Homo sapiens: one gene and its partner. The protein of the gene in region 1 purifies or fractionates together with the protein of each later gene. This does not show direct contact. Each region holds a gene or a part of one and is shown on either strand. Other genes may lie near its edges. The genes, in order: FBXO15 and UBA7.

Region 1 (3,810 bases):
GCTCATGAGAGGTTCTGACATGCATCCCCCCCCAGAAGGTTGGGAGTGATTTATTCTGGAGAAGGAACCCAGTGGAGAAAGAGATGCTTCGGACAGGATGGGAAATAAGGAGCGAGCTTCTAGAGGTGAGGGGCAGCTGGCCCGGGGAGGGGTGCGAGACCCACTGTGCCGCTGCGGCTGGTGCTGAGGCGGGCCTCTTCCTAGCTGGCTGTCCTGCCTGGGGTGGGCTAGCACCCGGGGACAGGAGGGACAGTGACTGGGGGGCATTGGAAAGGCTGCTGGGGCAGGTCGGGGGGGGGCCTTGAAACCCTCAGGAAAGAATTTGGATTTTGGTGTATCTGTGGATGTTGTTAAAGAGTTTGATGTGCCTATCGTGTGCTAGGCCATGTTTTAGGTTAGGAGGGAATTGGAGAATGCTGGACTTTGAGAACTAGGAGGGCTTCAGAGGAGAGTCAGCTCCCAGCTCTTGATCTGGCAGCAGAGGAGGTGGGAGAGCAGAAAGACTGAGACACCCACCGACGGCTTAGGGCTGTGAGCAGCGTCCTCACCAAGGAGCCCTTGTGCCCCACCGGCCGCTCCTTCCTGACTTCTGCCAGGGTTTCTCCTCCTCAACCTTCTCGCAGGTGATGGGACCCAGGGCTCCACCTCCTTCCTCCCATAGGATCTAACCACCATCTCTATGCTGGTGGGTTTGGTGAGGTTGTAAGTAACACAGTCAAGTGACTGCTAGCCCAGTGGCTAAGGTCGTGCAGGGTGGTGGGGTGTGGAAGATGGATGCACCATGCAGTCCCACCTGCTGTGTTATCTCAGAGGTGCTTAGACCTCAGAGCCTTCTCTCTAAAACGGCCACAGTGGTAATGCCCATTCCAGGAGGGCTCCGGCTGCCTGCCAAAGACAGAGCCATCTGCTGGCCCTCAGTATTGGCTTCAACTCCCCCATTCTCAGCCTCAGTGAGGCTGCAGTGTAGGGTGTTTTTTCTTATTCCCCACCTGCTCCCCACTCTGGTGTCCTCCTCGCAGCCCAGGCTCTGTGTGTGGTGGTCCCTGTCATGCAGGAAGCAGTGGGTGCTGTGGAACAGGCTGTGTGGGGCTGGTCGCTGCTGTTCCAGGACCACTGCAGCCGATTGCCTGGGAAAGGCATCAGGGAGCAAGGTCAGGTGTCTGAGGGGTTCCTGGGTGGTCTCACTGTGTAGCTCATCTGATGTGAGGGGCCTTAGGCTCTGGCGTGCACTCTCCCATCAGGGATTAGTGTGTTTCATGCTGGCTGCTTCTTCACCCATCTCTTCTTTCCTGGTGTTTGCTGCCCCTGATGCATTAGGGCTCCTGCTGTCCTACCTTAGTGTTTAATAACAACCAGCACCTCCATCACTACTCTTACCACCTCCCTCTCATTTTATCACACTCATTCATTCATTCAGCACATAGTGGTTGAGCTTCAGTGACTGTGTGCATATGCAGGTGGCCAGGGGCACGATGCTGAACCAAGCTGGCCTAAGTCCTGCCCTCTTGGTGCTTAGCATCCATCTCTACCTGCACTGGCCGGGCCGAGTCAGTTTCAGCACTGCAGCTGTATCAAGTTCTGCATTCAACACACTGGTGTTTCTGCCCATTGGGTACATGGTCAGTTGAGATGAGAGTATCAGGGAAACTTCCTCAAGGGACTGGTATTCGAACTGAATGCTGAGATGGACAAAGAGAAGATGGGAAGAGGATCTCTCAGCAGGGGAGCTTGGGTGGCTCTTTGTCAGCTGGGGGCATGGTGTGTTCAAGGGTGAAGGGTCAGTGTGGCTGGAGCACAGATGGCAAGATGTGTGCAATGAGGTGGGATGGGCGGATGAGGCCAGGTCAGGCCTTAATGGTAGCCGGAAGGAATTTGGTTCTTTCTTGAGAGCCGTGGAAAGTTGTCTCAGGGTGATATGCTCAGACTCATGTTTTGTAAAGGTTTGTCTTCTGAATATGGCGAATGAGTGGGGAGATCAGTTAGATGGCTGCCTCCTTAAAGGAAGAGCAGTCACTTGGTTTCCTAGTCTGCTTGGCATGCTATCACATATCACCATCAGCTGGGTGGCTTTTAAGCAATAGAAACTTACTTCTTACAGTTCTGGAGGCTGGAAGCACCAAGGTCAAAGCACCAGCAGATGGGTGTCTGGTGAGGGCCCTCTTCCTAGTTCCTAGAGGCACCTTCTAGCAGTGTCCTCACCTGGTAAAAGGAGTGAGACAGCTCTGTGGGCCTCTTTTATAAGGACCTCAGTCCTATTCATGAGAGCTCTGCCCCCGTGACCTAATCACCTCCTAGAGGCCGCACTGCCTAAACAGTCACATTGGTGATCAGATTTTAAGACACGGATTTTGGGACGCACAAACATTCAGACCATAGCACTTGGACTAGGGCAGTGGCAATGGAGATGGACAAAATTAAAGCGATTCGAAAGAGAGGTAAGAACTAACGGGATTGGGTGATGGTTGGCTCGTCAGGGCTAGGAGGGAGGCCCCTAGAAGGACGCCCACATTTCAGGCATGCACAGCCAGATGACTGATGATGGTTCCACCAGTCCCTGGGACGAGGAGTACCAGGAGAGCTTTGCTGGGAGGGTCCTGAGTTTGGGCATAGTCCTGCTGGACTTGAGGGACCGTTGAAAGATCCAGAAGTTGAGTACGCACTTGAATATTTAGGTCTTGAACTTAGAAAAGAAGTTCGGCCTGGAGATAAACTTTTGGGAATCACAGGCATGTTGGTGATAACTTAGGATGTGAATGTAGATGAGTTCCATTTATGGGGAGAGATTACATAGAGTGAAAATAGGGCCTAGGACCAAGCTGTAGGAACCTCAGCAATGGGAGTGGGTAGAGAGCTGCAGGGCTTGTGGGTTCTGGATGCATTTGGAGAGGTAGAATTACTCTTCACTGTTCTCTTGAAAAACTAAACACTGCTGAGAAGCAGACTGACAGATGGTCACTGGATTTAGTGGCCTTATCAAGAGATGTTCGGTCAGATGATGGAAAAAGGATACCAGGCCAGAGTGGTTTGATGAGTGAATGGGTATTAATGGACAAATCCAGCGGAGACAGCTCTTTGGAGAGGGTTGTCTGGGAAGCGAGGAAAGAGCAGGGGCCTGCGGGGCCCAGGGAGGCTGTTTCCCTCTCTCTGCCTCTCTAAGATGGGAGTTACTTGAATGTGTTAAAGACTAAAAGCTGATGGGAGGACAGAAGTAGTCACTTGAGAGGGACATCATGCCTTTGCAAGATGGGCTACGCTGCAGCAGGAGGTTACTGGGCCACACCCGGGAGGAGCAGATGAGAAACACATGTGAGGAGAGGTGGGCGCAGAGGAGCTGGGCTGTGGATCTGCAGTGGGAAGTTGAGGAAAACATCCTTCTCCCCTGTCTGTGAAGGCCGAGGTTCTCTGCAGAGATCACCCTCCTAGCAGGATGCAGAGGGCTGAGGGAGGGGATGAGGTGTTGTTCCATGAGGCGGAGAGGGAGCCACCCAGAGAGCCAGGGTGGGACCGTCAGGCCGAGCTGAGGATGGTGCAGCTGCATGGGCACCCAGCAGCTCTGCGTGCAGCCCTCCCGCTGTGCTTGGTGCTCAGGTCCAGACAGATAGAAAATAACTGCGCTCCTCTGGGGCTGGGGTTTTGCTGGACCTGGCCCTAAGGTGTGTTGCAAGGGGAGTGAGGGAGGTATGTGCATTGGCAAGAGTGTTATTCCAGCAAAGGCCAGTGAAATCTAAAGTGGAAAGGAAGAGGCGGGAGAAGGAAGGGCTGGCTAGTGGGTGGGCTAGGTCCATGGGCAGTGCTCTTCAGGCCTTTTTA
Region 2 (3,432 bases), on another chromosome or scaffold:
GTCCAAAATCAGGACTAGGGGAGAAGCATGAGGAATGCCCTCCAGGTCCTGATTCAGAAAACTCAGTATAAGAAGGAGATGCAGGCCAGTAGCCATCACTGACCCCGTCTCTGTCCCCTAGAGAGGCAGCCGCTATGATGGGCAAATTGCAGTGTTTGGGGCTGGTTTTCAGGAGAAACTGAGACGCCAGCACTACCTCCTGGTGAGCTGTGGGGTGAGACTGGGGGTGCCTTTGGGAGAGCCAGCCCAGCCCCTCTGGCTAAGGCTGTTCCTGCCAACAGGTGGGCGCTGGTGCCATTGGTTGTGAGCTGCTCAAAGTCTTTGCCCTAGTGGGACTGGGGGCCGGGAACAGCGGGGGCTTGACTGTTGTTGACATGGACCACATAGAGCGCTCCAATCTCAGCCGTCAGTTCCTCTTCAGGTCCCAGGACGTTGGTGTGAGTGCTGACCCCTCTCCACACTCCTGCATCCCAGACCGTCCTCCCATACAGCTTCCCACCCAACATCTTCCTGCCTTCTTCCCAGAGACCCAAGGCAGAGGTGGCTGCAGCAGCTGCCCGGGGCCTGAACCCAGACTTACAGGTGATCCCGCTCACCTACCCACTGGATCCCACCACAGAGCACATCTATGGGGATAACTTTTTCTCCCGTGTGGATGGTGTGGCTGCTGCCCTGGACAGTTTCCAGGCCCGTGAGTGCTTGACTTCGGAGGTCAGTCCCTTGCCCACAGCTGTGCCAGTCCCACTTCTGACCCACTGCTCCCTTGCCAGGGCGCTATGTGGCTGCTCGTTGCACCCACTATCTGAAGCCACTGCTGGAGGCAGGCACATCGGGCACCTGGGGCAGTGCTACAGTATTCATGCCACATGTGACTGAGGCCTACAGAGCCCCTGCCTCAGCTGCAGCTTCTGAGGATGCCCCCTACCCTGTCTGTACCGTGCGGTACTTCCCTAGCACAGCCGAGCACACCCTGCAGGTAGGAAGCACCCTGGAGACTCCCACCCCACCCAGCTCAGCCCTCAGCTGCAGACCTGTTCTCCACCTGATACCTCATTCTTCCTCCCTCCTCCACAGTGGGCCCGGCATGAGTTTGAAGAACTCTTCCGACTGTCTGCAGAGACCATCAACCACCACCAACAGTAAGGCCACCAACAGAGGCAGATGGGAGTCCAGGGCTCCAAGCATGAGTCTGCAGGACTCAGTCTCACACTTCCTCCTCTCTCTGCAGGGCACACACTTCCCTGGCAGACATGGATGAGCCACAGACACTCACCTTACTGAAGCCAGTGCTTGGGGTCCTGAGAGTGCGTCCACAGAACTGGCAAGACTGTGTGGCGTGGGCTCTTGGCCACTGGAAACTCTGCTTTCATTATGGCATCAAACAGCTGCTGAGGCACTTCCCACCTAATAAAGTGTGTGGCTAGGGGTTGGGACGCTGGGGGCTCAGGGGGACCAGACTGAGCCCAGCAGCTTCTACTTACCTACCTAGGTGCTTGAGGATGGAACTCCCTTCTGGTCAGGTCCCAAACAGTGTCCCCAGCCCTTGGAGTTTGACACCAACCAAGTGAGTGGGATTCTGTAGGGAGCTCCAAGATAGAGATGTGGCCCCTCAGAGCAGAGGTAGGCATTTCTGCATTCTGCAGAGATGCACAGATGCCCAGAGAGAGCCATGCTTGTGCATATATGGGTGTCTACATGTGAGGCAAAGGCAGGCACTCAAACAGATCCACAAATGGACAGTGACCCCCACCCCATGCACCCATGCCTCTGTTCCTGCTCTTGGTCTGGCTGCAGGACACACACCTCCTCTACGTACTGGCAGCTGCCAACCTGTATGCCCAGATGCATGGGCTGCCTGGCTCACAGGACTGGACTGCACTCAGGGAGCTGCTGAAGCTGCTGCCACAGCCTGACCCCCAACAGATGGCCCCCATCTTTGCTAGTAATCTAGAGCTGGCTTCGGCTTCTGCTGAGTTTGGTGAGGCTCCTGGCCCTGGCCCCTCATGCTGTCTTTCAAAGGCCTGAACCTGTCCTGTCCTCAGCCTGTGCTGCAGAAGGAAGATAGGGCCTAGGGGATCTACAGCCAATTTGCTACCTCTCAGGCCTCCTAACCTCACTCCTCCATAGTTTCAGGCTTATCCTCTGGTCCCTCAGTAGGTCTTCTCCCTGCTGCCTACCCCACATCCCAGTTCTTGTGGCAGATTCTTGGCAAAATAAATAAGTAAATAAATAAAGTCCATTGGTTCCTGGGGAGTGTCTAGCTATGGCCTGCAGGTGAGGACAGGGTCACAGAGGTCATGAGCACACATGGGTGAAGACTGGGGCTTCTAGAGGGGAGATTGTAGCATTAATTAAGGGGGCTTCTTGATTTGATCAGGGAATAGTAAGTGACAGGCTTGGCAAAGACCAAGAATAGGCACAGGGCTCCAAGAAGAGTGCAGGAGACAGGGGCTAAGGACTGCCTCAACATCCCCTCCCCTGACAGGCCCTGAGCAGCAGAAGGAACTGAACAAAGCCCTGGAAGTCTGGAGTGTGGGCCCTCCCCTGAAGCCTCTGATGTTTGAGAAGGTGGGTGCCCAAGTGGCAGTGAGGAGTGGGGCTGGGGAGTTTGTGGAGAAAGGTCAGGAGCTAATAAGGTAGTTTTGGAGCCCCTTGGCCTGAATTCTCCCAGCAAGACCCTGGAAGCAGCTCACATTCCCTGAACCTCAGCCTGTCTGATCAAGAGGAGATGTGGGGCAACCCCCCGACAGAACTGTGTGGAGACTTGTGCAGTGACACGCAGTGGGCCACGGTGAGGGGCACAGCTGCAGTGTTAACACTACTTTGACTTGGGCCTTACAGGATGATGACAGCAACTTCCATGTGGACTTTGTGGTAGCGGCAGCTAGCCTGAGATGTCAGAACTACGGGATTCCACCGGTCAACCGTGCCCAGGTAACCCCACCCCTTGAGGCTTGGGCCTGGAGGTGGAGGGCAAACCCTGGCCCTACGCCTTGGGCCCAGACCAAATCTCTTGTCCTTGGCAGAGCAAGCGAATTGTGGGCCAGATTATCCCAGCCATTGCCACCACTACAGCAGCTGTGGCAGGCCTGTTGGGCCTGGAGCTGTATAAGGTGGTGAGTGGGCCACGGCCTCGTAGTGCCTTTCGCCACAGCTACCTACATCTGGCTGAAAACTACCTCATCCGCTATATGCCTTTTGCCCCAGCCATCCAGACGGTGAGCCCATGATACCCCACCCTTAGCCCTACTAGGCCTGGGTTTCCCCTGCACCTGCCCATACAGGCCCCAATCTAGCTGCCGGCTCTCACTGAAACTCAGACTGTGCAGAAGTCCTGAAGACTCCCTCCAGCCCTCTTCCTGCTATGAAGCCAGGCTGGGACCTGTCAGACACAGGAAGCAGCCGTCAGCCATCCCCACCCCCAATCCTCCA

The links.
Region 2: the proteins of FBXO15 (region 1) and UBA7 purify together in Homo sapiens (affinity purification with western blotting, with the first as the bait; one study listed by BioGRID). This does not show direct contact.

Annotation. Positions count from the first base shown.
Region 1 is NC_000018.10:74,074,819-74,078,628, reverse strand, and holds part of FBXO15 (F-box only protein 15), read left to right. Parts: intron 1-3,810. UniProt on the Homo sapiens protein: Substrate-recognition component of the SCF (SKP1-CUL1-F-box protein)-type E3 ubiquitin ligase complex.
Region 2 is NC_000003.12:49,807,522-49,810,953, reverse strand, and holds part of UBA7 (ubiquitin-like modifier-activating enzyme 7), read left to right. Parts: intron 1-121; coding exon 122-202; intron 203-281; coding exon 282-437; intron 438-525; coding exon 526-691; intron 692-770; coding exon 771-976; intron 977-1,074; coding exon 1,075-1,139; intron 1,140-1,228; coding exon 1,229-1,412; intron 1,413-1,489; coding exon 1,490-1,564; intron 1,565-1,794; coding exon 1,795-1,978; intron 1,979-2,485; coding exon 2,486-2,568; intron 2,569-2,841; coding exon 2,842-2,934; intron 2,935-3,026; coding exon 3,027-3,218; intron 3,219-3,432. UniProt on the Homo sapiens protein: E1-activating enzyme that catalyzes the covalent conjugation of the ubiquitin-like protein product of ISG15 to additional interferon stimulated proteins (ISGs) as well as other cellular proteins such as P53 in a process termed protein ISGylation.